Linked DNA regions of Homo sapiens. The protein of the gene in region 1 interacts with the protein of each later gene in a pairwise test. Each region holds a gene or a part of one and is shown in the gene's direction. Other genes may lie near its edges.

What was found.
Region 2: the proteins of TMEM97 (region 1) and PSCA interact in a two-hybrid assay, tested with the Homo sapiens proteins (one large-scale study listed by BioGRID).
Region 3: the proteins of TMEM97 (region 1) and SLC14A1 interact in binary tests that used the Homo sapiens proteins (3 or more experiments, as listed by UniProt).
Region 4: the proteins of TMEM97 (region 1) and AQP12B interact in binary tests that used the Homo sapiens proteins (3 or more experiments, as listed by UniProt).
Region 5: the proteins of TMEM97 (region 1) and ASZ1 interact in binary tests that used the Homo sapiens proteins (3 or more experiments, as listed by UniProt).
Region 6: the proteins of TMEM97 (region 1) and SLC14A2 interact in binary tests that used the Homo sapiens proteins (3 or more experiments, as listed by UniProt).
Region 7: the proteins of TMEM97 (region 1) and RNF170 interact in binary tests that used the Homo sapiens proteins (3 or more experiments, as listed by UniProt).

The regions. Positions count from the first base shown.
Region 1 is NC_000017.11:28,321,985-28,326,284, forward strand, and holds part of TMEM97 (sigma intracellular receptor 2), read left to right. Parts: intron 1-3,518; coding exon 3,519-3,663; intron 3,664-4,300. UniProt on the Homo sapiens protein: Sigma-2 receptor which contributes to ameliorate dysfunctional cellular processes and slow degenerative progression by regulating cell functions including cholesterol biosynthesis/trafficking, membrane trafficking, autophagy, lipid membrane-bound protein trafficking, and receptor stabilization at the cell surface.
Region 2 is NC_000008.11:142,678,921-142,683,715, forward strand, and holds PSCA (prostate stem cell antigen preproprotein), read left to right. Parts: upstream 1-1,574; 5' UTR 1,575-1,618; coding exon 1,619-1,643; intron 1,644-2,406; coding exon 2,407-2,514; intron 2,515-3,000; coding exon 3,001-3,212; 3' UTR 3,213-3,805; downstream 3,806-4,795. UniProt on the Homo sapiens protein: May be involved in the regulation of cell proliferation. Has a cell-proliferation inhibition activity in vitro. May act as a modulator of nicotinic acetylcholine receptors (nAChRs) activity.
Region 3 is NC_000018.10:45,730,101-45,734,407, forward strand, and holds part of SLC14A1 (urea transporter 1), read left to right. Parts: coding exon of another isoform or gene 1-20; intron 21-199; coding exon of another isoform or gene 200-220; coding exon 221-371; intron 372-914; coding exon 915-1,104; intron 1,105-4,173; coding exon 4,174-4,302; intron 4,303-4,307. UniProt on the Homo sapiens protein: Mediates the transport of urea driven by a concentration gradient across the cell membrane of erythrocytes.
Region 4 is NC_000002.12:240,675,627-240,680,401, reverse strand, and holds the end of AQP12B (putative aquaporin-12B), read left to right. Parts: coding exon 1-50; intron 51-194; coding exon of another isoform or gene 195-254; intron 255-617; coding exon of another isoform or gene 618-916; exon of another isoform or gene 917-963; coding exon of another isoform or gene 964-1,130; exon of another isoform or gene 1,131-1,379; coding exon of another isoform or gene 1,380-1,479; exon of another isoform or gene 1,480-1,591; intron 1,592-2,023; coding exon of another isoform or gene 2,024-2,061; intron 2,062-2,682; coding exon of another isoform or gene 2,683-2,803; intron 2,804-3,657; coding exon 3,658-3,857; coding exon of another isoform or gene 3,858-3,876; 3' UTR 3,877-3,984; downstream 3,985-4,775. UniProt on the Homo sapiens protein: Putative aquaporin. Could form homotetrameric transmembrane channels, with each monomer independently mediating water transport across the plasma membrane along its osmotic gradient.
Region 5 is NC_000007.14:117,378,547-117,382,853, reverse strand, and holds part of ASZ1 (ankyrin repeat, SAM and basic leucine zipper domain-containing protein 1), read left to right. Parts: intron 1-709; coding exon 710-785; intron 786-1,786; coding exon 1,787-1,843; intron 1,844-2,806; coding exon 2,807-2,916; intron 2,917-4,307. UniProt on the Homo sapiens protein: Plays a central role during spermatogenesis by repressing transposable elements and preventing their mobilization, which is essential for the germline integrity.
Region 6 is NC_000018.10:45,642,364-45,646,670, forward strand, and holds part of SLC14A2 (urea transporter 2), read left to right. Parts: intron 1-768; coding exon 769-818; intron 819-1,622; coding exon 1,623-1,797; intron 1,798-4,307.
Region 7 is NC_000008.11:42,889,693-42,893,999, reverse strand, and holds part of RNF170 (E3 ubiquitin-protein ligase RNF170), read left to right. Parts: exon of another isoform or gene 1-33; coding exon of another isoform or gene 34-47; intron 48-4,307. UniProt on the Homo sapiens protein: E3 ubiquitin-protein ligase that plays an essential role in stimulus-induced inositol 1,4,5-trisphosphate receptor type 1 (ITPR1) ubiquitination and degradation via the endoplasmic reticulum-associated degradation (ERAD) pathway.

The DNA.
Region 1 (4,300 bases):
GCTGATTTTGTTGCTTCTCTATGGGGCAAATAATAATAAACGCCTTGAGTTATTCTCATATTCTCTTTGAAAAATGCCAAAATTTAACATCTGTCATTTTCTTCCTGAAATAGAAGGAATGTTTCCCTAGAGTTAAAAAACCTGTAGGAGATCACCTAGTGGTTGGGCTGAAACATGCACAATAAATTTTTTTTCTTGGATTGCACCAAATCACTGCTTGGAAAAACTCATTTTTTTATTTACTTTTTGTTTTTCTTTCTTTTTTTTTTTTGATTTTGTTTTTGAGACAGTCTCTTGTCGCCCAGGCTGTAGTGCAGTGGTGCAATCTCGGCTCACTGCAACCTCTGCCTCTCGGGTTCAAGCAATTCTCCTGCCTCAGCATCCCAAATAGCTGGGATTACAGGTGCTTGCCACAACGCCTGGCTAATTTTTATATTTTGTTATAGATGGTGTTTCACCATGTTGGCCAGGCTGGTCTCAAACTCCTGACCTCAAGCGATCTGCATGCCTCAGCCTCCCAAAGTGCTGGGATTACAGGTGTGAACCACCACGCCTGGCCTGGAAAAACTCTTATTTTATTATGAAACAGTAAGAATTTAGTTTGGATAAGAACATGGTAAGGAGAGGATGGGAAGCATTTTGTAGTATCATTTGCAGCTGGGTAACATTGCTTCTGGTAAAAATAAGGAAAAACAAGTGAGCATCTGGCTCTGAAATCAGTCTGTGTTCCCATTCTAAATTATAGAAGTACAAGATTGGTGAGTAGCAACCACTGGTTTAGAGATCGTGCGTGCAGGCCAGGTGAATCTTTTATGTATAACAAGGGTGGGTTGAGTCAAATAGAGTCAGGTATAAGTGGAAACAGTTTCATTACCTTTGGTAGGGAGGCCATAACTAATAATTTTTAATGACCAGTCGTGAGCTGCGATTTTAATGGGATTAAACTTGAATATCTCCAAATATGTATTAATTACATTCAATTAATCATTATGTGCTAGCCATTATTTTAAAGACTACATGTATTAAGTCACTCTCTTACCAATAGTGAAGTAGGCACTATTACTGGCTCTATTTTATTGATGGGGACACAAGTGTAGGGAGATTAAAGGCCTTGCCTAAAGCCAGGCACTCTACCCCAGGTCCTACACGCCTCACCCATCTGCCAGGTGCCTGGGCTTTCTACTCTCCTACTCACAATTAGTCCCAGCCTCATTCTGGCATCAGGTGGCAGGTATATGACTGTGGGCAGATGGTTGGTTACGATTATGATAATTCATTATTACGACATCTGGGTGATTGTTTTTTAAATTTTGCTGATCTCATCTTGTAGGCCTTAGAAATTAAAGTGCTGTACAAGTCTGCCTCAGTTTATGAAATAGTTGGATCAGAGAGGTTGTAAACAAATTGAATAGAAAGTGAAGTTCAAATGGCCAGAATGCCTTTTTTTTTTTTTAATTTTTTTTTGAGATGGAGTCTCGCTCTGTCACCCAGGCCGGAGTGCAGTGGCTCGATCTCGGCTCACTGCAACCTCAGCCTCCAGAGTTGCTAGGATTACAGGCGTGAGCCACCACACCCAGCTAATTTTTGTATTTTTAGTAGAGACGAGGTTTCACCATGTTGGCCAGGCTGGTCTCAAACTCCTGACCTCAGGTGATCCACCCGCCTTGACCTCCCAAAGTGCTGGGATTATAGGCATGAGCCACCGGGCCTGGCCCAGAATGCCTCTTAAATTTTGCAGTCAGGCCGGGTGCAGTGGCTCACACCTGTAATCCCAGCACTTTGGGAGGCTGAAGCGAGGATCGCTTGTGCCCAGGAGTTCGAAACCAGCCTGGGCAATGTGGCAAAACCCCGTCTCTACAGAAAATTAGCTGGGCTTGGTGGCGCATACCTGTAGTCCCAGCTACTGGGGAAGCTGAGGTGACAGAATCATCTGAGCCCGGGATGTTGAGGCTGCAGTGGGCCGAGATCAAATCACCACACTCCACCAGCCTGGGCAACAGAGACTGTCTCAAAAAAAATAATAATAATTTTATAGTCAATCTTTTAAAGCAGGTAGTGTCATCCAGTATTTTTAAAAATCTAAAAAGCAAAAAAGGGATCTTAAGAAAACATCTAGTCCAAGTTGCTCATTTTACAGATGAGGAAGTAGAACCCTGGAGAGGGACAGTGACTTAGCCTTTGTGTTTCTTATCAATTCAATCCTATTCAAACCACATTCCCATCCAGAAAAGTGCTTAGAAGGAAGCGAAGGGCATTGCTATGAATTTCAATTTCAAATTAAGTACAAATTTGGATATCCTTTGGTCAATAAATTGGTTATCTAGCCAAAGCCTTTCTGAAATTAATAATATGCTAACAGGATATTTGTTTCTGGATGTTTGCTTAAAGTGCTCTTGCAGCAGTGGGGCTTCTATTTCACAATAGCGAGGCTTTATCTTTTGATTAAAAATTAACAGGAAAAATATTCTTGGATTTTCCATTGTAAGTAAGATAAATTCTTACCCTGGAGTTGCCTTTATTAATCATAATATCAAGACTTATTTGTCTTTGAAGGCCTGTGTGTCAGGGCAGCGCCACATCTAGGAGGTTAAATGTGACAAACGTTTAGTAGTCCACATAGAGCCAAGAGCACTAGGCTTTGGGCTCCTATAAAAGCCCAAGATGGGAAGCCTTAAACTCTGCTTCTTTTCTCTGCCTGTAGCCAGGTCAGCATGGATCCGCATCCTTTTTATTTGACAAGGTAATTACAAGCGTGGGGCCCAAGCTAGAACTGAGACGCTAAAACCCTGCATAACCAAGAAGCTACTAGGTAGTTTGTAGTTTGGGGCAGAGTTTGTTCTTCCACTAAAATCCTGTCTCCTAAAATAAACCAAAAATTAGAATTAGGGGAGTTAAGGAACTTGTTTGTCATATTGGAATTAAAGTGTCCAAAATTACATCGCCACAGAGGTTAGATTTACTTCCCCTTTCACTCCCACCCCCACCCCGCAAAAAGAAGAGGGAAATTCAATTCATTTCTGCATTTGAGGGAATCTGGCCTTTGGAGGAGTTTGGTGTGTAGTTGCCATTACAAAAGGGAAAGTGTCAGGATGGTTTTCATGTGTATTTGTTTTTTTAAACAAAGAATGATATTGTTGACAGAAATGTCACATTTGTTCATTCAGCGAACACCCTGAGTGCCTACCAAGTGCCAGATACTTATTGTTGCTCCTGACAGTGGCCAACACACCTGGATGTGTTATCTTGGAATTATGAACAGATTCTGGGTAACACAAAGAAGGGGCTGGAAGAGTTGAGAAAATTTCAGAGAAGGGAACATTTGAGTTAGGGATAGTAAGTTTTTATTAAATGACCACCTAGGCTGTGTCACAAAAGCCAGCTGGACATGCCATCTGCTGCCGGGGTAGTGGGGGGTGGCTAATTAATGACAGGCTCCTCCAGTGTATTTTCAAATGAGCTAGCGCCGAGCCTGTTGAGGGCAAGTGGCTGTAATTCATCATGATCGTTTTCTTTTTCAGTTTAGAAACCTGCTGAAGTGGTATGCTAAGGAGTTCAAAGACCCACTGCTACAGGAGCCCCCAGCCTGGTTTAAGTCCTTTCTGTTTTGCGAGCTTGTGTTTCAGCTGCCTTTCTTTCCCATTGCAACGTATGCCTTCCTCAAAGGTTGGTAAATGGTGGGAAAATCCCATTTTTACTCAGAAATCAGGTCCCAGAAATCTTTTGGGAAAGTATCTCCAAAGGGAAGGGGATGGTCCCCATAGTTTGTGGGAGAATGCTACAGGATCTGGGGTAAATAGCCAGGGTAGATCTTGTAAAGGGACATTAGTGTGGCTCAGGCTCATGTCTGTGGTCAGCAGGCCTGCACGGCTGCCTCAGTCGTCTGGAAATCCCTTGCATACACATGAAGCCTGAGACCACTTAAACAATGAGCTTGTTCCCTTTTGTTTTGTTCCCCAACAGAATTAATTTCTCTTTTTGTTGGCTTTTATTTCTCTGCGTTGGATAGTATCATACTGACTTATAAGCTGTAGCATCAGGCTAATCCCTAATGTGCTTCTCATTTTAAAATTATTCTTAGTGTTCTCATATAATCAATGCTTTTTTAAAAAGGTGACCATACACGTGTACTTGATAAGCTAAAACCACTGAAAATGCTCGTTTCCCATTGGCACCCCCTGGGGTCACTGAATCTGCCTTCTGATCCTCTCACCTATATATAATTACTGAACAAACAGATGCCATGGGGCAGGGATTTCCCTCCCCTTGGATTTTGTACCACACAGGTTTAACCGGTAATGGC
Region 2 (4,795 bases), on another chromosome or scaffold:
CTGCTCTAGAGGGCCATAGCCGCTGCCACCACCCACCGCCCAGCTGACTGGCATGAGAGCTTGGGCCTGCTCTAGAGGGCCATAGCCACTGCCACCACCGCCCAGCGGGCTGGGCCTGCTCTAGAGGGCCATAGCCACTGCCACCACCTCCCAGCTGACTGGCAGGAGAGCTGGCCTGAACTTGCCTCTTCCACTCTCTCATCTCCTGCCTGTGGGAGCTGGACCAGCCTCCCAGGACATGGAGCAGGACGGAGAGGGGATCTGGGGCAAACAGAGGCCATACAGCCCTGGGCCTAGCCGCTGCCTCCTGCTACTGCAGAGGCTGCTAAAAGCTGCACTTCCCCGACTCGTTTGCAGCTAAAGTTCCAAGCTGAGGGGGTCACTCAAGGTCCTGAGGGTAAAGCACCTAGCCCAGGGCTCAGCCCACACTGAATGCCCCATAAATGAAGGCCCGTCCAACAGGGTCTCCTCCCCAGGGAGGCTGTCCCCTGTGTCAACAAGAGCCAAACTCTGTAAAATATTTGAAGACATTTATTCTGAGCCAAATATGAGGGACCATGGCCTGTGACACAGCCCCCAGGAGACCCTGAGAACATGTGCCCAAGGTGGTCAGTGCACAGCTTGATGGTACCCATTTTAGGGAGACATGAGACATCAATCAAATATATTGAAGATATACATTGGTTTAGTCCAGAAAGGTGGGCAGCTGGAACTGGGGGCTTCCAGGTTATAGGTGGATTTAAACATCTTCTGGTTGGCAATCGCTTGCAAGAGTTATCAATAGAAAGGAATGTCTGGGTTATACGGGGTTGTGGAGACCAAGGCTTTATCATCAGATGAAGCCTCCAGGTAGCAGGCTTCCGAGACAATAGATGGTAAATGTTTCTCATCAGACTGAAGGCCTGTGTTGATGTTAACGCTGGCTGTTCCAGAGTTCTGAAGGGAGGAGGGATAATGAGGCTATCCAACCCTTTGCTGTCATGGCCTGAACCAGTTTTTCAGGTTAACTTCGGAAAGCCCTTGCCAAGAGGAGGGTTCCACTCAGATGGCTGGGGGGCCTTAGAATGTTACTTTTGGTTTATACCGGAACAGCCCCTGCCCCTGTCCTTTGCAGCACCTGCTAATGATCTGTCAGTGACGCTGTGACCAAGGCTCATCACCCTGCGGGCCGTGGGCCCCAGAGGGCGGCACAGCTTCTATAGGAGCACAGGGCCCAGGGAGGTGCCCTCATCCTTGGCTGGAAGGCCGAGGCCTGGAGGAGTCTGGAGAAAGGGTCTCCCTTGTCTGGCCTTGCACTGTGAGGTGGGGGAGGTGGGAGAGGCATAATCTGGGTCTTGAGGACGTTTCAGCCCTCAGCCCGGGGTGGCTGAGATATGGCCCTGGGTAGGCTCTGTCCTCCAGAGGTGGAAAGAAGGACAAAGGGAGAGGGAGGTGCAGGTCGCTCAGGGAGGAGACTCGGACCTGCCCAGCCCCGGGGCCCTCACTGGCTCCAGGAAACCCGCTGGTGTTGACTGTGGGCAGTCCAGCCTCTCCCCATTTGAGGCCATATAAAGTCACCTGAGGCCCTCTCCACCACAGCCCACCAGTGACCACGAAGGCTGTGCTGCTTGCCCTGTTGATGGCAGGCTTGGCCCTGCAGCCAGGTGAGGCCTTGGCTGGCCCCCAGCAGGGAAGGGAGCAGGGGTGAGCCGGGGAGGCCAGAGGGATACCTGCAGGGCACACGGAGAGGAGGGGAAGGAAGGAGGAAGGGAGAGGAAGGGGGTGAGGCTCTTGCCCTAGCCTCCGCTCCTCCAGGGAAGCTCTTGGCACGACCAGGCAGCGACCTGTTCCCTGCCGTCCCCTGTGACCGGGGCTTGCAGGGGCAGCACGGAGTCACTCTCCTTCACCACCGTGGGGCAGGGCCTGGCTCCTAGGGGGCAGGTAGACAGACTGACGGATGGATGGGCAGAGATGCTGATGAGGAGCTGGGAGACATGGGACAGGAAGCCTCAGGCTAAGAAGTGGTTTTTGGGGCACAAGGGGGAGGTGCTGGGGGTGTCCTGCGAGGACCCGGGGGTCTACATCCGGCCCAGTCCCAGCACTGCAGCTTCCAAGGGTCCCAGGGAGCTGCTCTGCTTGAGGTGGGACCCTCCCGACCCAGGGTCCCGGGTTCAGTCACCCCCACAGCCGCAGCTTCCTCTTCTGAAACACACGGTCACAAAAGCAGCCACCGAGGGACTAAACAGGGCAACATTTCGGAGGCACTGAGCAGGGGGCCGTGAAGATGGGGAGGAGACATTGAGGGTGACAAGAGGGCGCCGAGGACTTCCTCAGGCCACCGCCATGGAGGCCCACCTGCCTGGGAGCCCCCATTCCTGGGGAGTGCTATGGGGCAGCCTCTGAGGCCCCTCCCACTCCACCCCACAGGCACTGCCCTGCTGTGCTACTCCTGCAAAGCCCAGGTGAGCAACGAGGACTGCCTGCAGGTGGAGAACTGCACCCAGCTGGGGGAGCAGTGCTGGACCGCGCGCATCCGTGAGTGGGGGGACGACAGCCGCCAGGCCTAGGTCTCTGCCACTGAACTATTAATCTTTCTGGCCATCTGTCCGCATCTGTGTGCTGTTTTCCTTCCACCTGTCCCCGACCCGTCCCGCACCTGCACCCCCAACAATCACCCAGCATCTGTCCCTCCAGCCATCCTCCTCCATCTGCCACTCCTCCACTCATCTGTCCCTCCCCATCCTCCATCTTCCACTCCTCCACCCATCTGTCCCTCCCCATCCCTGAGCTCACTTACTCACTCACCCCATTTCTGACGCTCAGCGGGTGGTCCATCTGCCTCGGACATCTGGATAGGGCTGAGACCAGGGCCGAGACCAGGCCCTCGCACTGCTTGCAATCCTGAGGCCAGCCCAGGGGGACTCTAGAGCATTAGGCAGGGTGGGACAGGAGGAGGCCTGGGGCAGGTCAGGCAGGTGAGCACACAGGGCAGCCCCATCCCCGGATCCCGCTGCTCCCCAGGCGCAGTTGGCCTCCTGACCGTCATCAGCAAAGGCTGCAGCTTGAACTGCGTGGATGACTCACAGGACTACTACGTGGGCAAGAAGAACATCACGTGCTGTGACACCGACTTGTGCAACGCCAGCGGGGCCCATGCCCTGCAGCCGGCTGCTGCCATCCTTGCGCTGCTCCCTGCACTCGGCCTGCTGCTCTGGGGACCCGGCCAGCTCTAGGCTCTGGGGGGCCCCGCTGCAGCCCACACTGGGTGTGGTGCCCCAGGCCTCTGTGCCACTCCTCACACACCCGGCCCAGTGGGAGCCTGTCCTGGTTCCTGAGGCACATCCTAACGCAAGTCTGACCATGTATGTCTGCGCCCCTGTCCCCCACCCTGACCCTCCCATGGCCCTCTCCAGGACTCCCACCCGGCAGATCGGCTCTATTGACACAGATCCGCCTGCAGATGGCCCCTCCAACCCTCTCTGCTGCTGTTTCCATGGCCCAGCATTCTCCACCCTTAACCCTGTGCTCAGGCACCTCTTCCCCCAGGAAGCCTTCCCTGCCCACCCCATCTATGACTTGAGCCAGGTCTGGTCCGTGGTGTCCCCCGCACCCAGCAGGGGACAGGCACTCAGGAGGGCCCGGTAAAGGCTGAGATGAAGTGGACTGAGTAGAACTGGAGGACAGGAGTCGACGTGAGTTCCTGGGAGTCTCCAGAGATGGGGCCTGGAGGCCTGGAGGAAGGGGCCAGGCCTCACATTCGTGGGGCTCCCTGAATGGCAGCCTCAGCACAGCGTAGGCCCTTAATAAACACCTGTTGGATAAGCCAGAGAGACCCTCTGTCCTTGCACACCCCAGGCGGGCACCGGATCCAGGGCTGTGTCTGGACCAGGGCCCTGGTCACATGGGCTGCAGCCTCCGCCCTAACAGGAGCAAAGCTTGGCCCCTGAAAGGAGGACGTCCCTGCAGAGGGTGGGAGGGCAGTTCCCAGGACTTGCACTTGCTGTGCTGCCTGGAGCATGTGGCCAGACCTCTCTGAGCCTTGCGACTCATCTATGACCCCTCCTTGCTGGGAGGATGGACCCAGAAAGTTCACAGGAAGGAGAGCGTTCCGGGGGGAGGGACTGCTACCATTCAAGCTCCTACCCATCCCCTTGGCCTGATTTGAGCACCCCCATTTTTCAAAATTTGTTTTAGAGCTGCACACCCACCATACAGCATTCAAACACTACAGCAGGGTCCCCGGTGACAGGTGGCCTCCCCCAACCCTGAACCCCAGCGCCTTCCCTCTCTGGGGTGCCCATTACACCTCCAGAGGCTTCTTTCTGGGAGAATCTGTGCCCCGTGAGCATCCCCAGGCCCCTGAGTGGGAGGACACCATCCACACTTGCCTTCTGCGCTCAGGGGAAGCCTTTTGCACACAGCCTGCTTCCCGCCCTAGGGCTAGGGGTGCAGCCTGTGACCTGGGTGGGGACCTGCTCAGGGTGAGGCCTCCAAGGGTGTTAGGGGTGGGGCTCGGGGGGCGGTTTCAGAGAAGAGGAGACAGAGGCTCAGGAAAGGGAACGGGTCTGTTGCCCACATCCCATACCGAGCCAGGATTGGAACCCTGGCCTGGAGCTCTGAGGGTGGGTCATGGAGCAGACAGTGGGCAGAGCTGTGCTGGAAAGAGCCAGGCCTCCCGTCTGACATGTGACTTCACGGGGAGACCTCCCTCCTGAACACTGGGGGCCCAGGGTGGCATTGTCAGCAGGGTGCAGCTCCCCAGGCCAGCATCTGAGTGACCCTGGGCACTGGTCACACCCTCCCCGCCTCGCCTACA
Region 3 (4,307 bases), on another chromosome or scaffold:
TACAGACACTGATGGCAAAGGTACTGTGGGATTTGGGTTTGGCTAATAAGCTCTGTGGTGGTGTTTCAGAAGGAAAATGGTGCTCTCTTAGTTCTATGGAACATAGTGGTCCAGATCTTCTACTGTAACCAGGCCCAAAGCTGGCTAATCTGGAGGGCTCTGCCTTAGGGATACTTATAAGCTCTGTCCTTCCCTCAAGGAGCCAGAGGAAGAGATAGCCATGGAGGACAGCCCCACTATGGTTAGAGTGGACAGCCCCACTATGGTTAGGGGTGAAAACCAGGTTTCGCCATGTCAAGGGAGAAGGTGCTTCCCCAAAGCTCTTGGCTATGTCACCGGTGACATGAAAGAACTTGCCAACCAGCTTAAAGGTATTTATCCTTTCACATTTTGGAGAGACAGGAGAAGTAGCTTTGGGGGAAATGGTTTCCTGGTACTTCTACTTATACCTTTAGTTATATTCTCCAACTTTTTATAGATCTCTTTACTCACCATTTTTCTACTTTTATCTTTTAACCTGCAAACCTCTCCATTTTTTTTTCTTATGGAGACAGTAGCCAGGGCCCAGCTCATATTAGAAGGCACCTGGCTTCATCCTGTAGTTTCAGTACTTAAAACTTAAATTTATTCCTTTGGCTTCAGAATTTGTACCTATAAGCATGAAAATAAGTGCATTAGATGCTTTCAGGAGCTTAGATTCTAGGAGGGGCAGTGTGGGTTGAGCATACAGTAGATAGAGGCTTTCAGGGATCTGGGTGCCACTAATGCAACAATGGGTTGAGAGAGAAATATTAAAGAAATATCAAAAATGTTTCACTTCCAGGAGGTTTTGCTGATTTTGCTCAGGGTGGGCCTGTGGTTGAAGAGTATCACTTGGCAGCTTCCTTAGCTCTGCTTTACCTCATCCCTTCCAGACAAACCCGTGGTGCTCCAGTTCATTGACTGGATTCTCCGGGGCATATCCCAAGTGGTGTTCGTCAACAACCCCGTCAGTGGAATCCTGATTCTGGTAGGACTTCTTGTTCAGAACCCCTGGTGGGCTCTCACTGGCTGGCTGGGAACAGTGGTCTCCACTCTGATGGCCCTCTTGCTCAGCCAGGACAGGTAGGTGTACCCTTTCAAGCCTTCTCAGCTCCCTTCTGAGACACAGGGGCTGACCAGTTACTGTGGGCAACAGTGATAAAACCACATCCTTCCCAGGATAAACAACATTTAGTCCACAGAACTGTTTATATTTGTTTTTAGTCAGAGGTCAGGGAATCAGTTACAGTCTCTTGCTCTTGATATCTGAATAAATGGCTGGTCTAAATGATGCCAGATTCTTGTGGCATTACGTGCTAACCAGAACTAAGCTACAAGTATTTCCCTGGAGAGGTTCTGAAGGGATCTTCTTTAATGATTGATAAAATTATTTGTCGTCAGCATTCTATTTGGGAAAAAGTGCATATGAATTCAGAAAAAGTTTTAGTGGCTTAATAACCCCCGTTATATCTTGTTGCTATGATGAGTTTAGGAAACTCATTCTTCATAGACAGTGCAAAGGTCAGCTCAGCTCCTGGAGAAAAGAATAACCATGAATTCCAATTGAGTGGATTCTGACTTAAGAAGCCTTAGTGAGTCTTCTGATATATTGATTAGATTAAAAATAGCACACACTTTATAAATTGATCTGTCATTGAAGAAGTGATGAGCTGACTCTCACCAGGGCAGTAGATAGCTCCCCACTAGCCAGTTCCTTTAGGGAGGGAACCAGTATTCCAGGTGTCTGAGATCAACGCATAATCCCAATCCCCAGTGTGGTCATTACACAACTAAGCTCTTGTAACACTGGCTGCAAATTGCCTAAAGAGGTCCGTGGGGAGAGAGTTAGCAAATGCTCCACTTTTCTATCAATTTCAAGGAGTCTGATTTGCTCCCTGTAGAAGGGGATTTTATAGCTTAGGTTAAACTCTATTCCAATGCATGCCAAGAAAAGGTCTCCTCAGTTTGGGGATGGAGTCTATAATTGTGCCATACTGAATATTCCTTTATGATTTTGCTCTGATGAAACATGATCAACTCATTTTTTGTCAGATATTATTTAGAAGACAAGTCATTTATATGTGTTAGTTTCAAATGTTTTACTTTCCTTGGTCTGAAAAGACTGCATTAAAATGGAAATTCTCTGTTTTAAGTAAATATATGTCTTCCTGTGGCTTTAACTATGGCATTCCACAATTTGTAGATGTTGCCATTAATTTTCCACTGATCAAACTCAAGCATTAACATCTCCAAGTCAGTTGTTGAGAGGACAAGTCTGCATGGCTCTCTACTGTCATGTGTAGTCCCAGTCTCTGAGTTGTACCTTTGCAAATTGTATCACCTCCCATTTGCCCTCAAGGATTATTTAAGGGAAACAAAGAACTTTTGAATAGGGAACCCCACATTTAATGTTCATCTGGATTAATGTACGTGACATCATCTTGCCTGTTGCAATGGTGCCTCCTGGCCCAGTTAGAAACAAGCCAAGAAGCAGCTGTCACACTATCCCTTACCAGCCCCTGCAGTGTGGCTCACTGGCTATAGCACCTCCTGCTCGAGCCCAGCATTAGGCCTCACCTACTCACTTCACCATCTTTACTCCCCCATCCCCCTACAGACATCATCCTTGAGTGACAGGCCCTTGGGAAGTGGATCCTGTGCCTTTCACGGTGCCAGACGTTGCCAACTCTCAGAGCTGTGGGAATCCTGCCTTGTCAGGTCAATCAATCTAGGTGCCCATCAATGGTGGATTATATAAAGAATATGTGGTGCATATACAACACGAACTACTACATAGCCATAAAAAGGATTGAAATCAAGTCCTTTGCAGCAGCATGGATGTATCTGGAGACCAATATCCTAAGTGAATTAATGTAGTAACAGAAAATCAAATACCACACGTTTTCACTTACAATTAGGAGCTAAACACTGGGTAAACACGGACATGGAAATAGTAGACAACTGGGACTCCAAAAGAGGAGAGGAAGGGAAACAAGTGTTGAAAACCTACCTATCAGGTACTTTGTTCACTATTTGGGTGACGAGTTCAATAGAAGCCCAAACCTCAGTCAGCATCATGCAATACATCTATGTAACAAACCTGCACATGTACCCCCTCAATCTAAAGAAGGAGAAGAAGACGGGGAAGAAATGAGATTGAATACTAAGCAAAAAGTAACCTCAGAAAGAACTGGGTGCTCAACATGCACATAATTAAATGGGATACTTCTCCAAGTAAGAGAAAAGCAATTGTTCTTCTTTGCAATAACTTTGAAATGTGCGTTTGGAGACAACAAAATAGAAGCATCAGGACACAAAAATGTATACTAACCTGGAAGATTAATGTTGATAAGATCAAAGACACTGTGAAAGTGAATTTACATTTCAGGAATCTTATATCTCTCACCAAGAAATCAAACTTAAGCAACAGTTTCATATGCTAAAAGCGCTCTTCAAGTCAGAGGCTCTTGATTTAAAAGAATAACTTTCCAAAGGAAAGGCTAAAAGAAAACAGAGCAGATTGCCTTACTAAACTCCCCTTTCCTCTCAGCCACTGTAGACCTGTCTTTAGCCGTGACACCTGTAGAGGGAGTCATTCTCTATCAGGGGTCCCCAACCCCTGCACTGGAGACAGGTACCTGTCTGTGGCCTGTTGGGAACTGGGCCGCACAGCAGGAGGTGAGCGGTGGGCGAGTGAGCATTTCCACCTGAGCTCCGCCTCCTGTCAGATCAGCAGAAGCATTAGCTTCTCATAAGAGTGCGAACCCCATTATGAACTGGGCATGTGAGGGATCTAGGTTGCTTGCTCCTTATGAGAATCTAATGCCTGATAATCTGAGGTGGAACAGTTTCATCCCGAAATCATCCCCCATTCCCCATCCATGGAAAATTGTCTTCCATGAAACCTGTCCCTGGGGCCAAAAAGGCTGGGGACCACTGATCTAAATGCACATTTATATTTTTATCTATGTATATTTCACTTCATGTCTTTATTAGTTTTTGTACGATGCTTACGTAGACTTTGAAATACATTTCCAAATATAATCTCATTTTTTAATATGAATATGATCTGGAAGTTACTAGTGTTATTTATGTGCAAGTGCAACCAAAGCTCACCCAGGAAATGTCCGTGCTGTGTCTCTTGCCCCACAGGTCATTAATAGCATCTGGGCTCTATGGCTACAATGCCACCCTGGTGGGAGTACTCATGGCTGTCTTTTCGGACAAGGGAGACTATTTCTGGTGGCTGTTACTCCCTGTATGTGCTATGTCCATGACTTGGTAAG
Region 4 (4,775 bases), on another chromosome or scaffold:
ACACACCTTACTGGAGTACGTGCAGGTGTACTGGCTGGGCCCTCTGACAGGTAAGGGCAGGGGCAGGGTGGGGTCCCTAGGGCTGCTGGGGCCCACAGAGCATCCTGGCACGTGGGGTCCTGCAGGGTGGAGGTGAGGGTGCCTGGTCAGTGCTCCTGGGGAGGTCTCTGCAGTGGGCATGGTTTGGGGGGTAGGGGCTGTGACGGCATGTCTCACTGTGGACACCGTCCCGGTGCCGAGCAAGCTGCAGCCAGGTAAGGAGGCCACAGGCTGGGGAAAGGCCAACCTTGCAAGGGGTGCTGGGCACACGGGGGATGGTGTCTGCAGTGGGGCTCCATGCACCTGGGGTTCCCGTCCCAGGTGGCATCTCCACACACCCAGAGCCAGACTCCGCCGAGGGGGGCTCATTCTGGTGTCCCTAAAGCCTCAGGAGGCAGAGAGCCCCGCTTAGATGATATAGGGTGCCATCGTGCACTTATAGGGCTGTGAGCATGGGGCTGGAGCAGCCAGGCCCTTTGCATCCTGGTGGGGCAGACCCGGGACTCGCTGATGCACACAGGGGACCCCAGAGTTCCCCCACAGTGTGTGCCCCTCCTTTCTTATATCCTGGATCCAAGCAGAGGAGCAGCATGGGGAGGTCATGGAGCCCCCTCTTGGACCTAGATCTGGGGATTCTGGCCCCTGGCTTCAGAGGCCCAGGTGGAGCCCACACCTTCTCCTGCACCTGCTCTCAGACACTCGGCTCCACCTCACTGAGGTACCAGAAGGGCAGCTGGGTTCCTATGGAATTCTGGAAGCTTTTTTCAGCTTCTGCTGGCTCTACACTGGGGAGGTCTCAGGGGCAATGCCTCAGCCTCCCCTTGGGGGGAAAGACAGGAGCTGGGGGTCTCTCAGGCACCTGGCCCTGCGATGGTGACACTGACGTCATCGTGATTTGTCGCCATGGTTCTGATGTGGTCACAGTCTCTCAGGCATGTGCAGGGTCCTAGGAAGCATACGAAGTGCATCAGGAACCCCCTCCTGCCCCCGTTGCCGAGGCAGCACTGCCCTCTGCTAGGAACAGCTCCGTGTTGGCCTCTCTGTCCCCACACACTGGGCCTGCAGGGCTTCTCCGAGACTCTTCAGTTCAGGTATCAACCCTGGGCTGTCTCCTGGGATGTGGGGGGCGGATGTTCTTTCCTTGCCTCCCCACGCTCCTCCTGCGGATCCTTCACTCCGGGTGGGTCGGCCTCTTCCTCCTGATCAGCTCCAGAGCCCCCTCTAGTTCCCTGGCATGGAAACACGGCCCGGGTGAGCTGTGGTGGCCCCGGAGGCCTCTCCGCTCCTGCACAGGCCTTGCTTCCTGCGGGTGACGAGGTCCTGGACTCTCTCCTGCCCAGGCTTCTGGGTGCTTTCCTTAGTTCAGCACCAGTGCTCTGTGTGGGCAGCGTCTCCCCCGAGGATCCGCAGCTCCGGGTTACCCGCAGGCGTCCATCTCCGGTATGGTGCTGCCCTTCACTGATCCTGGTTGTATTTCTGTTTCCTGCTTTCCTCATCGCCTCCTGTTTCGGTTGATTCCTTCTTTTTGCTGGTGCCCGTCTCACAGTAGCTTCCTGAGAACGGGGACCTGGCAGGTACACTTCAGACCTCCTGTGTCTGAAATAGTGTCCTGGTTCTGACCTGCACTTGAGTGTCGGTGAGGCCTGGGCAGGGTTCCGGGTGGGAGCTCAGTTTCGTCCTGAGTTTCTCAGGCCCCAACCATGGCCTGTGGTGGCTTCACGGGCTACAAGGCAAAGGACGCAAACGAAGAGGCTTCACGTGACAGGGTTGTATGCTCAGCCAGCTCTGGAGGCTGGAGTCTGAGCTGGCAGCACTGACAGGGTCAGCTCTCCTCGGAGGCTGCTGGGGAGGAGCCTCCTGCCTCTTCCGGGCTCCGGGGGCCTCTGGCACCCCCGGTGTCCCCGGGCTTGGAGACGCAGCACTCCCATGTCTGCCGGTTCCCCTGGCCGCCTCCTCTGTGTCATTGTCTGTTCTCTTCATATAGGGACACCAGTCATCGAATTGGAGGTTCACTCTACTCAAGTATGACGTCACCGTGATTTCACTGATTTTATGTCCCAGGCCGTATTCTAACAAGGGCACATCCTGTGTTCTGGGAAGGGCGTGTCGCTGGGGAAATACTCTTCACCCGGCTGCAACCTCTCACTGTAGAACTGCCTCTGTGGAGAAGCCCAAAGGGCATTTGCGGCTTCTAGGAGCCAAGTAGGAGGAGGCTGGGATCCGTGTTTCAGGCGGGACTCCAGGCTTGGGCGGGCCTGATACTCGAGTCCACATGCCCCCTCTAGAGAGGAACCTGTCTCCTGCCAGGGCCAGGGAGGGGGGCACTGGCTGCTTCTGTATTTTGGGGTTTGGGGCCCTGGAGCTTCCCATGCGGAATTGCCGTCCCTCCTCCTAGGCGAGTCCCAGGGCCACCCCATCCCACAGGGACCCGGGCGCCAGCTTCTGAAAGCATGGGGCATCTGCGGAAGAACTGGGTTGTTTCCCAGCTTTCGTCCCTGCGGAGGGGCGATCCGGCCCCTCCATGTCAGCAGTGTTTGGTCGTCCACATGCTTGTCAGCCCCACGCTGTGCTCCTGCGTCTCTTCCCGTCTCATCCATCTGGATGCTTGACACCTCTGACAGCATCCCTTTCCTGTCATCTTAGGGCAGCTTCAGGAAACCGAAAAACAGGCTTGTGTCCTTCCATTAACCCCTTTATCCACAAGTTCAGTATCAGCATGAGCCCTGGGGAGCTCCAAGGCTGCAGCCAGGAGCCCCGTAGCCAGGTGTGGACATGGGGCTATCTCCCTGGGTGTGAGCGGCCACCGGCACCTGCTGGCAGCACCCCTGAGCAGGTCATCCCGCCTCCCTGGGCCTGCCCTCCTGGGAACAGAGCTAGGACCAGTGTGGGCCTGGAGGGCCGAGTGAGGGGCAACTGTAGGCAAGCTGTAGGCACAGGGGCCACTGTCAGGAGCCACAGCAGCTGCAGGTGGTGACAGGCAGGGCCCCCTCAGGCCAGCCCTAGTGGAGCTCACACACTGTGGGTTAAATCCTTAGAGGAGTGAGATCAAACTTGAAGAGGATCTACTCTCCCCTTCTGCCCGGAACACCTGCCCTTCCCAATGACCTGGAAGGCAGGCGGGGATTTAGGAGTCTCTGCTCCTGGAGTTCTGGGAGAACGTTCGCATGAGGATTTAGCCAGGCCCAGCCTCCCACCCAGGGGCATCCACATCTTTCTTGTCCACTCACATCCCCCACCTCTACGCCAGGCCACAGCCCTGCAAGCAGCCACCCTGGGACGCCACATCAGGTCCCGGAGGAAAATGGCCACAGAAGCTCTGGGAGTGGCTCAGGACAATGTGGGGGGAGGGGAATTCCAGTCACTCATCCCAGAGGGTGGTCCAGAAGTACAAGGAACCCCACCGGCTTGCCCCCGTCCCCATGGCTGGCATACCCAGAGAGAGGGGCATGACCAGGGCGGGAAGACCAGGACCAGGCAGGAGCTGGGCCTCAGGGTTCTTGGGGCTCCTGGCCAGGCTGCCTGGCTCGCCTGTCCTGGCACAGGCCTGGGAGTGGGTGTCCTGTCTGTGTTTGGGCCCAGGAGCCCCGCGGCCCACCTGGGACCTGCCTTCTCTTGCAGGGATGGTCCTGGCTGTGCTGCTGCACCAGGGCCGCCTTCCCCACCTTTTCCAGAGGAACCTGTTCTACGGCCAGAAGAACAAGTACCGAGCACCCCGAGGGAAGCCGGCCCCGGCCTCAGGGGACACCCAGACCCCTGCAAAGGGGTCCAGTGTCCGGGAGCCTGGGCGCAGTGGTGTTGAGGGGCCACATTCCAGCTGAGTGGCCTTGCTCTGTGTGAGCCCCGTGCGAGGGCCCTGCTTGTAGCTGGACCCTGGAACCTTCTGTAGCTAAGAGGGAATCCTGGCCCCCTCCCCAGAAGCCATTTGTCAATAAACCATTTCTAAGACCTGTGTGTCCCCCTGGGCCCGAGAGAGGCTTCTGGAGGGGCAGGCAAGGGTGTGCGGCAACACGGTGAGGCTGGTCCGAGTCTCCCCATCTCCCGCGGGCTCCTTCCTGCCTCTTGTTACAGAAGAAGCAGGAGAGGAAAGGGCAGGATGACAGGGAAGAGCCCAGGGAGTCCGCCAGGTCCCAAGTCTGCCAAGATGATGCTGCAGCCCTGGACATGCCCGGGAGGGAGCCCACAGCCACGGAGGCCTGAGACCCGATGGGATGCTGAGGATGGTGCTGGAGCCTGAGGCTGTAGGCTTGTGAACTAGGCACAGGGCACCCAGTCCCACGGGCCCTGAGTTCGCGACCGTCAGGACCATGGTCCGCTCGCCGCCCAAAGCCAGGTCAATCACTGAGACCTTGGTGGCAGAACTGGGACCTGGAGGCATGGCACCTCCAGCCATTTCCTTCCCAAAGAACAGAGCCGGTCTGGAAACTTCCACCCAAAGGAGATAACGGCCCTCTGCTATGGGTCCTGCTGCCCCACCCAGAGGGAGGGAGTGAGGTGGCCGGTGCTCCTGCCACAGGCTGTACCCCGTCCTCTGGTGGGCAGCAGCCCTGGGCTCAGCCGCTCTGCTATGGGGGAAGGACGAGAGGAGAAAGCAGGGAGATGTCCTCGATGCGGGGGGCTACGGGACACCCCAACCCCAGTGAGACCTCCACCCCGGCCAGCGTCCAGGCTCTTGACACCATCGTGAGAAGGAATTCAGGGGCGAGTTGGCAAATAGTGAAAGACCAGAGATTTCCTGC
Region 5 (4,307 bases), on another chromosome or scaffold:
TTTTTAGTGTTCTCCAGAATTTTAGAAAATTTTTATTCATTTTTATGTACTAACACTAATGATAATAACTTTAAATGTAAACTTTAAGTAAGATATCAACAATAAAATCTATTTTTAAAAGGTTCTGAAATTATATTAGTGTTCAAACAGTATAACACCTTGTTTTCTAATTATTTTTAGTACAGTTCTAATTTTATAAGCTAAAATTAAACATATACTTTTCCCCCCAGAACACCACTGTTGAGTACATGGCCAAAAATAATTCTCTCCTTACCCCATTTAAAGTTACTTAAATTTTACTTATTGCAATTAAAGAGGTGTGGTTTTTTTTCATTTTTTGTTTTTTGTGGGTTTTTTTGCCTCAAACACCTGTGCTCAAGCAGTTCTCCCGCCACAGCCTCCCAAGTAGCTGGGACTGCAGGTGTATGCTACTGTACCAGGCTGAGGAGATTTTTATGTGCAGAAATTTCACAAGGAGTACATACTGGCATATATTTTCATTTGGGGAAAGATGAGTTATACTCCTCATATATCTTCAGTCACAAAACCTTACTTATTCCTTTGATATAGCATAGGTCTGGTGTGCAGATTGCAAATATATTCTACATGAATTCATTATTATTCATATTCTCTTGCAATATAAATGTATATTTATCGCTTGTGCATTTATAATCTGTTCTGAAATTGACATTGCTATAAATGTATACAGTTCATATACAGCATTTGGAGATCTGGAAGTATTTTTACATGGTCTTGGACTTGAACATATGACAGATTTACTAAAGGTAAGATCTTATATAACCTACAGTGAGTTATGCATATATGTTAATTTGTTGGTTAATATAATGTTAGATATTAATTCATAAACATGTCTATGAATAACTGCCAATTTACTTTTCACCATAATTTGTAGTACATCCCAATTTTAAATTTGTGAAAAACATTGCAAAAATGTATTATTCTAGAAATTTACATAAATTAGAATCTGAGATTAAACAGTTTTTACCCACTGCCTAACCTTCATATACACCTGAGCCCTTAGTTTGTTTCTGTAGTTGCTCATCTTCTTGAGTAGAATATTGGAAGAGCGTGATTTTAAACCAAACACCTGGTATCAGATTCTTGCTCTAATGTTTAATCACTGAAATATGTGACTTAAATATCTCATTTTCTTCATAAGGATAATAATACCTAGTGTTGGGTTGTCATGAAGGTTAAATCAGATCATATGCCAAGCACTGTGTGGGTGTTTTAAGCATACATTATGGGGTTTGAGTCCATGACAGTTGTTACCAGCTAGGTGGAGATACTGAAGCAGTAAAGCACTATTTAAGATAGACTCTTCTTGGGAGTGTGCACATTCTGTTAAAATATTTCAGAGTTGTGCTTCATTGTATAATCTTGAAATGTCTCCCTATTTGGAGAAATCTTGAGTAAAACTACATGTTGGTTTAATGTGATACAGTCAGAAATTTAAAATATTCATAAAACATAATTTCTGCCAAATTTTATAGAACTGCTTTTCTTTTAATGTAAGCAAATATGAATGGTAATCATTTGAATCTGGAAAACTAGCTATATTTATACTTTTTAGGTGAATATAATTATTATGATACTCATTACTGTCTACTCAGTAGCATAGTTCTGCATGTATATATCCTGTCCCCTCTAGAAAATTGGAATTTGCTTCAGAGTGAAGCAAGTAACTAACTTATGAACATTTGCCTACTTCTCCTTCTACTATTTTAATTATATGGAAAGGTGGCCTTTTTTTCCTTTTATACAGGAAAGGGATATAACGTTAAGACATCTTTTGACCATGAGGGAAGATGAATTTACAAAGGTTAGTATCAATTTCAAAAATTCCCGATACATTGTTTGATGTTTTTAAAATTGTGGATCCTTTTCTTCTCTCTTTTTAAAATGCCAGGGCTATAGACAAAAGATTGATCTTCTACTGTGTCCTTGATTAGATATGATTATGGATAACCGTATCTAAAATCTTGTGTTAGTATTAAGTTACTTTAAGAACATGTAATGACTTATAGTTTGGGTTTTGTTTTTGTTTTTTTCAGATTGTCATGACAGCTAGAACTGATCCTTCAGTTTCAAATGTGCAATAGATTTGTAAAATGGGGCACTTACAAATAAGAGATAGTTTTTTTATGTATATGGGTATTAACACGTCTCCCAAGCCTTTTGTTTGGTTCTCAAAACTGAGACCTTTTATTTTGCCATCTAGTATTATCTAATAACATATAGCTGCGGGATGTATTAGAGACACTTTGATAAATAGCATATGTAAAAAGCAATGATCTGACTGCATGACCACATTGGAAACTTGACATTTTTAATATCACTAAAAATCAGTAAGCATACTACAAAACTAAATCCAGTATAGAAAATTTAGTTTAACACTAAAGGTAGAATACAAACAAAGATAGGGCCTAATTCTCATTTATCACTGATAATATTTTAAATAAAAATTTGAAGGAAATTTTGTTTTACTGTGTTTTTTTGAAATATTACATATTAAGTTCTAGTAATTTGTTTTGGGAGTCCATCATAGTTGTTATGTATTGCAAAAAAATTGACTATAGTTATTATATATCTCAATATTCTAATGCTGTAACTAACATCAATCACAGTTATAAGAAAAACATATTTTTTAGAAGTGTGTTATTTTTCCAATATATGCCTATTTTTTCAAGATGTGAATTCATCAAGAAAACATCTTTAGCAATTTTGAGTTTTAAATTACTCAAGTATAACTAACTTACTGTACCTTAAAATTATTTCTGCTTAGAATGGAATTACCAGTAAAGACCAGCAGAAAATTCTGGCTGCTCTTAAAGAACTACAGGTAGAAGAGATACAATTTGGAGAGCTATCTGAAGAGACAAAGTTGGAAATCAGGTAAAATTAACTTATTTGTTTATATTATTAATAGTGTTAAGAACCAATTGTTCTTTTTAGTTTAATTTTCATAATGTCTGAGTCATTTTACTTGATACCATCATTTTCCCAGGGTAATAGATTTTGGAAGATACTGTGTTCTGAAATTAGATGTACTTTGTAAAGTCAATTTTTATAAAGTCATTTACCAAGAAGCAAACAATATGTCTTCTTGTTAACTCACATAGAAATATTTTTGTTTTATTTTTTCATTGCATCTTGCTAAATTGAACCTTACAAACAATCCCATGCTTTTTATAGTATACCTTTAAAAATCATTTTAGAGGTTAAATTGAAAATTCAAAGTAGTAATATTTTCACTTAGGGCAATAAGAAAACATGTCTCATGTAGCTCAGTTCTATTTTCAGCCTTACTGTATGAGAAATTATGTTACCAATATGTAAACTTCATTTCCAATATTATGAACTTGTCAAGCAATGGTTATTAATAATCCCAAATCTATTTTGAAAATAATATTTGATTTTATTAATACATTATAGAGCAATAAATGATTTTTAAAAATTTTTTGAAATATAGATTATTGGGATATTTCAAAGATACACAGGGAAGTCCCATGCATTCTGTACCTAGTTTTGCCCAGTATTGGTATCTTTTATAACTGTAAGACAATATCAAAACCAGAAAATTTACATTGGTATGACCCATACGGCTTACTCATATTTTGTGAGTTATGCACTCATTTGTGTGTGTGTGTGTGTGTGTGTGTGTATATATATATATATATATATATATATATATATATAATTTTATCACATTTATAGCTTCATGTAACTACTTCCGTGTTCAATGTACTTAACACAGGGCTGTCTCATAATACCCCTTTATAGCCACATCTAACCTTCTCCCCATCCCAACCCCTAGCAACCAATAATTTGTTCTCCATCTTTTTAATGATGTTATTTCATGAATATTATATAAATAGAATCATACAGTATATATCCTTTTGAGATTAACTTTTTTCAATCATCCTAATTTTCTTGAGGTTCATCAAAGTTGTTGCATGTATCAGTACAATAGTTAATTCCTTTTTATTGCTGAGTAGTATTCCATGGTATGTATATACCACAGTTTGTTTAACCATTTATCCATTGAAGAACATTTGAGTAGATTTTAGTTTTTAGCTATTCCAAATAAAACTGCCATGAACATTCATCTACAAGATTCTGTTAGAAAATACATTTTCTTTCTCTGGGATAAATGCCAAAGAGGACAATTGTTAGGTTGTACGGTGGTTGCATATTTAGTATATTTTAAAACTGCCCAACTGTTTTCCAGAATGGCAGTACTGTTTTATGTTTCTAGCAAGCTTATGAGTGATCCAGTTTGCTCT
Region 6 (4,307 bases), on another chromosome or scaffold:
GACCGTAACTGCTTTTGGCCTTCAGAGAAGTGGCAGATTCCTGTGGCTGGAATCATCTGGGAAGCCTACAGGGGGAGGCTAGGGTTTATCTCAACACTTCTAGTAGGATCTGAGTTGACAAAGAGAGAGGGAAGAGGTGTTCCGGACAGAGAAGGAGAAAGAGCAAAGCTGCAGGCAGAAGGAGTTTGTCCAGAGGCACCAGCTACATGGACGAGCTTTCCTGACTGTCCTCAGGACCCAGCTCCCATGGGGGAACCCAGCTGCCTGGCTCCTGGGGACTGGTTCAGGGGTCTAGTAAGGTTCAGCCCTGGTGAGACTTGGTGAACATCAAGCAGCATCACAGCTGCTCACAGTCTTGAATAGGAGGGACCTTGGCAGGAGCTCGTATAGTCTGACCACTCTTCCCCTACAACAATCATCCAGCCTGTACTAGCTCTTCGCTACCATCAGCGTAGACTAGCATATGATGTGTATTGACCCCTGACTCCATGCAAGGCCACTATGGAAGCAGGGAGGGGACAAAAGGAAATATATGTTTTAATCTCTGCCCGAAGAATGAACAGTCTGGTGGGAGACTGGCCTCACCTGTCTACAGAGATAACAAATGCCAGGCAAGCATGCCAGCTGTCAGGGCATGGTGCAGAATCTGAGGCTGCAGGAGAGAGGGTGGGGCTCCTGTTCTTGGTCTGGGCTCCCTGGTCTGCAATGGCAGTGGCTTAGGGGGAAGGCCCTGGGAAGCTCACTCTGGTGATCCTTGTTCCTCCACAGCCCTGTTCTGTGCATACATGGAAGCAGCCATCTCCAACATCATGTCAGTGGTAAGTGTGGATTCTCCTGAACACTACCCCAAAGTGCTCTTCCCAGAGCTTCTGGACATATGGGGTTGTGGGGTCTGGGAAAGGAACATTGAGCGGGTAATGGTAGCTGGTGCTCACACGACATCTCTGTTAAGGTTTATCTAAGGTTGTCCGGAGGAGGATTGACAATTGCATACATGTACCTCTAGGAGAGGGAGGGGTGTGTGTGTGTGTTGAAAGATTGCAATGTAACTAGCAGTGGAAAACACGACGGACAGATGGAGCTGTGTGACTGGACATGGGGGAACATCCTCAGGCCAATTTTCAGCTCCATCATTGAAAGATTCTGATTGTGGCTCAAATTATCTGTTTTGTTTTTGTTTTCTTTGCAAGACAGGGTCTCGCACTGTTGCCCAGGCTGGAATGCAGTAGTGCAATCTTGGCTCACTGCAGCTCCAACCTCCCAGGACTCAAGCCATCCTCCCAGTTCAGCCTCCCAAGTAGCTGGGACTAGAGGCATGCACCATCATGCCCAGCTGTCTTTTGTATTTTTTTGGGTCTCACTTTGTTGCCAAGGCTGGTCTGGGCTCAAGTGATCCTCCCACCTTGGCCTCCCAAAGTGCTGGTATTACAGGCATGAGCCACTGCATCCAGCCCTAAATTCTTTGACCAACTACTGTGACATTGCAAATCCAGGAATATCAATGCCTTCACTGGAGGGAGGATCTCCATCCTCAACGCCTGTCACATCCTTCTCCCCCAGAGTCCCCAGCCCAACACAGGAAACTAGGAAACTTCTTCAGTCCCCAATGCTTTTGTTTCCAGGTGGGCGTGCCACCAGGCACCTGGGCCTTCTGCCTTGCCACCATCATCTTCCTGCTCCTGACGACAAACAACCCAGCCATCTTCAGACTCCCACTCAGCAAAGTCACCTACCCCGAGGCCAACCGCATCTACTACCTGACAGTGAAAAGCGGTGAAGAAGAGAAGGCCCCCAGCGGTGAATAGCCATGTTCGGGGAAGAAACGCTCTTTGCCTGACCTGATGTCCTCTCCCTGTGTTCTCTGCTCTGGTTCAATCAGTTGCAGCACTCACCTTCTTTGCCTCTCCTTGCACCTGTGTAGAACCAAGCACACCTGTAACTTTCTTTCCCTGAAGCTGATTTTCATTCTCTGCCAGAATCTCCATAACTATCTATTGTGCGACATTAAGGGATGTTGGTATTACAGTAAAATTTCCGGAGTTAGCAATAAGGTGTGTGTCTTAAATGTTGTTGACTTAAAACAAAAACAGTAGTCTTTTGGAAAGGTAATTAACAGGTGATCTTCTTGGCATCTTAAACTAAATAATAGATGCTATAAAATTAAACTTGTTGAGTGGTTCCTAGGCAGACACAGAGTAGGGGGGTAAGTCAGGGGACACAGGCTAGGAAGGGAAGGCTCTCTAGTGGCTGAGCTAGAGACTAATGACCACAAAGAGAGGAATTTCACACTGATGGGATTTTAAAGTCAAAACAGGGACGATTGGGGCAGGGAATTATCTAAATAAGGAGTCTTAACCATTCAGTGGTCTTTGTAAGGGGCAAGGCGATATTCCATAGCAGGGAGGAATTAATAAATTAGAATCCTATATATGACTTTATTATGGAGGATAAGCATTTCTTAGTTTAGGTCAAACCAGCATCTCTTTAAAATTTAATTTTTTTAATTTTAAGTTCTGGGATACATGTGCAGAACATGCAGGTTTGTTATATAGGTATATATGTGCCATGGTGGTTTGCTGCACCTATCAACCCGTCATCTAGGTTTTAAGCCCCACGTGCATTAGGTAGTTATCCTAGTGCTCTCCCTCCTCTTGCCTCCCATCCCCCAACAGGGCCCAGTGTGTGATGTTCCCCTCCCTGTGTCCACGTGTTCTCACTGTTCAACTCCCACTTATAAGTGAGAACATGTGGTGTTTGATTTTCTGTTCCTGTGTTAGTTTGCTGAGAATGATGGCTTCCAGCTTCATCCATGTCCCTGCAAAGGATATGAACTCATTCTTTTTATGGCTGCATAGTATTCCATGGTGTATATGTGCCACATTTTCTTCATCCAGTCTATCAAGACTTTGCTATTGTATACAGTGCTGTGATAAACATATGTGTGCTTGTGTCTTTACAATAGAATGATTTATAATCCTTTCAGTATATACCTAGTAATGGGATTGCTGGGACAAATCAAACCAGCATCTCTAAGCAGAGATTTCAGTTAAGGAAAGTACCTGAGTTCCATGTGTAAAAAGCTTGGGAAATTTACTTCATTCTTCTATTTGCTTGTGAGCATGGGAGGCTTTATGAAGTGTATGATATTTAAAACAAATAGGTAGCCCTGACTATAGAAAGACAATTATCTATGAATTTCATAATTTTGTTTCTCAACTATAGTCAATAGCTTTCATTTGGTCTTTTTAAATATATATATACATATACAAAGATATATATAGATCGGGGTCAGCAAACTTTTTCTGTAAAGAGCCAGATAGTAAATATTTTCTGCTGGGAGGCCATATATTCTCTTTGGCAAAGTCTTAACCCTGTCATTATAGCATAAAAGTAGCCATAGACAACGTGTAAATGAATGAGTATGGCTATGTGTCAATAAAACTTTATTAAACAAGCAGTGAGCTAGATTTGGTCCACAAGCTGTATTTTGCAGATCCCTGATAGAGACAGTCTACATACTAATGCTTACAAACTGGTGGGCGGTGCACAGGCCCAAACAGACACCACCAAGTCCCTTGCGACATAGCAAAGGGGTTTTACATGCTGGTGACAGCATGAAGACCCTCAGGAAATGGAGGATACCCAGAAAAGTGACAGTAGCATGACTGGAATCAGGAGGACCTGCTCTGGGGCTGCTGGAGAACTAGGATACCCAGTGATGTGCACTAAGGGGTGCAGTTTTAAACCAAGACCCGCCTTCTACATTGTCTGGGAACTATTTCTAAGGTTCACTCTTCTCCAACCTCTCACTCTGTTGTTCTCTCATCTGCCAGAAAGCACACCACTCTTGGACAAAGAAAAACTGATGACCCTTCAGTGCTGGAGTTTTCCAGGCAGGAAGGACAGGGAGGTTCAGAGAATCCCAACGTTTGAAGGGAGTGTGAAGATCAGGTGGTCCGATCCCATGATGCATGAAAACCTCTATAATATTAGGATAAGGGCTTCAGTTCTCTGCCGGGTTTCCAGAACAGATTCAATTACCCAAAATGGAGGCAAGGCTCCCAAAGTATTTTAACAACAGATAACCAGAACCAGAGACCCCACTCATTGCCCTAGAAAATCCCCTCCTGTCTTCATTAAGCTCTTTGAGGCTGTCCACCCAAAGCATTGGGTCTGATTGGGGACTGTCTTTTAGCCATGCTTACTGGATCCCCAGGAGAGGAAAACTATTTGGATATAAAAAATTATTTCAGCTGATTTGGACAAGATTATCGCTTTCTTTTCCCACCAACTCCCCCCATCTCCCC
Region 7 (4,307 bases), on another chromosome or scaffold:
TTTATTTTTTTTCCTTCCCTGAAAGCTTTGGAAATGCCTGAGGAGAGGTGAGTTGAACTTGTCTTAGCTGTCTGGTTACTCCGGTTAGTTGGAGGCTAGTTCTCACCCACAGCTGCTTATCAGATTAAAGAGGGCATGTCCTGTGTGACAGTGCTCCAGATTGCATCCTGTCTTCCCAGGGAACACATACTTAGAGCTGTGATTAAAGAGAGTTTGAGATGCTATGTGGAGCAGCTCTGGGGCAGGCATGGCTAGTTTTTATCATATCAAAACATGGCTAGTTTTATCATGATTCCTTGGCGGTTGTTAATAATATTAACCAAACACTGTAGCTTCCATTTACTGAGAGCCTATATGATGTGCCAAGCAGTATGCTAAATGCCTTACCTTCATTATCTCATTATAAACTTCACAAGGCAAAGCACTTCCCCTGCCACACCCGCCCCAAAAAAGAGTGGCAGTTTGATATGGTTCAACCTAATGCCTTTTACGTATGAGGAAGCTGAGACTGAAACTTTATGTAAGTCCAGGGCTGTCTGACTCTGGAACTTGTGCTTGTTTGCTGTCTGAAGATACTGCTCAATAAGATGTAGCCAGCTGAGCAATAGCAAAGCCAGTTTCTCTGCAAACTTCTATCAGTTACACTGCACAGTTTCCAAGATGGATGGGGTTCAGTTTTTGTGAATCTTAAACAGTTCAAAACCGAGTATTAGTAACTCTTCTTTTCATATTTTACAGGATACCATGAAATAGATTACATCCCATGTTCTATACATTTAATAACCTTGTTTTTGGGTTTAATGTAAACAACCTTTAGTGGCCACTACAACATGTAAGACCCTGCGCACTACTAACAGTAATAAGATATGATTCCTGACTGAAAGGAATTCATTCTTTAAAAATGTATTTTTAATTTTTATAGATGTATAATAGTTGTACATATTTATGGGGTACCTGTGGTATTTTTATACAAATATGTACAATGTGTAATGATCAAATCTGGGCAGTTTTTTGAGACAAGGTCTTGTTCTGTCACCGAGGCTGGAGTGCAGTGGTGCGATCTTGGCTCACTGCAACCTCTGCCCCCCAGGTTCAAGCAATTCTCATGCCTCAGCCTCCCGAGTAGCTGGGATCACAGGCGTGTGCCACCACGTCTGGCTAATTTTTGTATTTTTAGTAAAGATGGCGTTTCACCATGTTGGCCAGGCTGGTCTCAAACTCCTGGCTTCAAGTGATCCACCCACCTTGGCATCCCAAAATGCTGTGATTACAGGCGTGAATCACAGCACTGGCCTGAATCTAGGGTTTAAAAAAAAAAAAAAAAACGCTGCAACAGAGCCTCCAAATAACATGAAAAAATAAATCCAGTAAGATATTACTTTATATGCTTGGAACTAAGTGCTTAACATTCTGTGATTAATAATAATAAAATTTTGAGGGTGAAGCAATTGAGCACAGTATCTACATATTCTAAAACTGAACTGTAGTCACTTGTGGATTCTGTAAATATTTGGCACCAATAAACATTAATTTTTGGCTGGGCGTGCTACCTCACGCCTATAATCCTAGCACTTTGGGAGGCCTAGGTGGGTAAATTCCTTGACCCCAGGAGTTGGAGACCAGCTTGGGCAAGATGGTGAAACCCATCTCTACAAAAAATAAAACATTTAACTGAGCTTAGTGGTGCACACCTGTAGTCACAGCAGGAAGACTGATTGAGCCTGGGAGGTCGAGGCTGCAGTGAGCCAAGGGTGCACCACTGCACTCCAGCCTGGGTGACAGAACAAGACCCTGTCTCAAAAAATAAATTTTAAAAATTTATAAACATTAATTTGAGCAATATCTGTTTTTCAAGAAGGAAATTTGTGGTGTAGTGAGAGTGTTTAGCAGTTGACATGCCAGTCATGCCACTTAGGTCAGTGTAGGTGCCTCCGGAGTAGGCACCGTCAGGAAACTGAGCGACTGGGTGGTAGATGAGAATGGGCATTGACCGGGCATTGAAGCTCAGTTTGCATATCGAGAGAGGAAGCAAGTATTGGCTTTATTTTTCTTGTTAAAGTAATTCATACTTGAAAGAATTGAAACTGTGAAACTGTGTCCTAGGGAGGGTGATGGTCTGGTTTTGCCAGTCCAGCTTCTCACTGATAACCACTCTAATGTTAGCTTTGATGTGGCTTTTTCTCTATTCCGAAACTCTGAATCAGAGAAATTTAGCAGTAGAAGGAAGTGAAGAAATAAAGTCACAGTTGTTAACCTAAAATAATTTAAAAGGTCAAAATCGAGTTTAAAGAGAGTTTAAGTGTAAAGGTTGAGGACAGGCCACCTGGGAAAGGACAGATTTAAAAGCATGGAAGTCAGTGCTCGTCAGTATAGACATTTGGGATTGTTTATATAGACAAAATTTAGGGACATTTAACAGAATTTTAATATCTTAATGTAAGGCTTAATGTACAGTTATAATGATCTGATTAGTCAAGGTGCGTTTTTTAGGGAAGAAAGAATGTAACTGTCATGAGACCCCTGTTTGGGGCACCATCTGGTCTGAGTTAGGTACAGGACAATAAAGGAGGCAGTTAATCTGTAATAAAAATCAGCAATTAGAAGGAGGAGATCTGGTCTCTTTTAAAAAAAAGACTTAGTCTTTTTTTAGTTGTTTATAGAACAAGAACAATGAGGAAGAGTTAAGCTAAAAATCTAAGAAACAGAATTGTAAACATGTTACGTGACCCAGATCATAGTCATATCTCTTTCAAGGCTTAAGGTGCTTTGGAGGTTCTAAAAACGTTTGAATTTTATTTACTTTTACACAGTTGTTGTAACAGAATTGGAACTAAAATTCAGGGCTCCTCATGTCCAAGCAACAACTGCTTGGGCTTCAGTTTAGAGCCTGTATGGTTGGACAGAATCAGCAGCACTGTTTAGTTCTGGATAATCACTGACTGTGAACAACAAAAGTTGGAGAACAGAAGTCCTTGATTTTGGAATTCATTTTCAGGACTGAGGTATTATGTCATCTCCCCAAGTAGGAAATTTTGTTTCCTGTTTATCTTCTGGAGTTATAAATCAGACCAGCCTCTTTCCAAACTGAAGTGATGGTACAATACCTCATTTTTGAGCCACTAGCACCTGCAGTTGCTTTTTTACTCCAATTTTATGAGAAACTATGGCAGAAGTTGTGCTGTCGAAGCCCCCAACAAGCAGGTCAAATGGCATTAGTAGATCTCCATTTGACAGCCTGGCTTTTGTTGGGATTTCCATGGGACAAGAAAATGCAGTGCCCTTCCCTTTTCCTCTCAACACCGCTGAGAATATCTGCTGTCAAATGATGCAAATAAAATAATATGGACATGCAATACTTAAATATCCTGGATCTCTGAGCTCTTGGAAATGTACATGAAGCAATATCTTAAGAGTATAATCACAGGCCGGGTGCAGTGGCTCACACCTGTAATCCCAGCACTTTGGGAGGCTGAAGTGGGTGTATCACGAGGTCAGGAGATCAAGACCATCCTGGCTAACACAGTGAAACCCCATCTCTACTAAAAACAGAAAAAATTAGCCGGGTGTGGTGGGGGGCGCCTGTAGTCCCAGCTACTCGGGAGACTGAGGCAAGAGAATGACGAGAACCCGGGAGGCAGAGCTTGCAGTGAGCCGAGATCGCGTTGCTGCACTCCAGCCTGGGCGACAGAGCAAGACTCCGTCTCAAAAAAAGAAAAAAAAAAGTCTCAAAAAAAAAAAAGAATATAATCACATAGTAGTCAAATATTTATATATAATATATATTATATATATGTTGTACAGTATAATTTATTCGCATTACCATTGATTGCACCTTGAAGGACATAGAAACAAATGCAATGCATTTTTTTAAGTACAAAATAATAAACGGCCTAAATGTATAGCATAGAGGAAAATGTGAGTAGGAATAATTACAATGCATTTGTTGATAGACTTAACTTACAAAGCACTTTCACCTCTGTTCATTTGTTTTAACCTTCACAGCTCTGTGAGGTAATTAGAGGTTGGAAATCTTGACACAGGGGATAACATTTGGGTTATCTTTGAGCAGATGCAAGTAGTTCTCAGTGCCCTTAGGACTTTTGAAACAGCTACAGCACCTCTAATTTTAAGAGAGGAAACCTGATGAAATAAAAACCTAAATTGACTCCGTGGCCCACCCCTAGCTTATTTGAGGCTCTTCAGTTCAGTTGGCAGCTCATTTAACTGTTCTTTTGAATGAAAATACTGCAATTAGAGCTGTTTCTGTGAGTTTCCTGGTGTGCACCTTCGTAATAGTTACTTGAAAC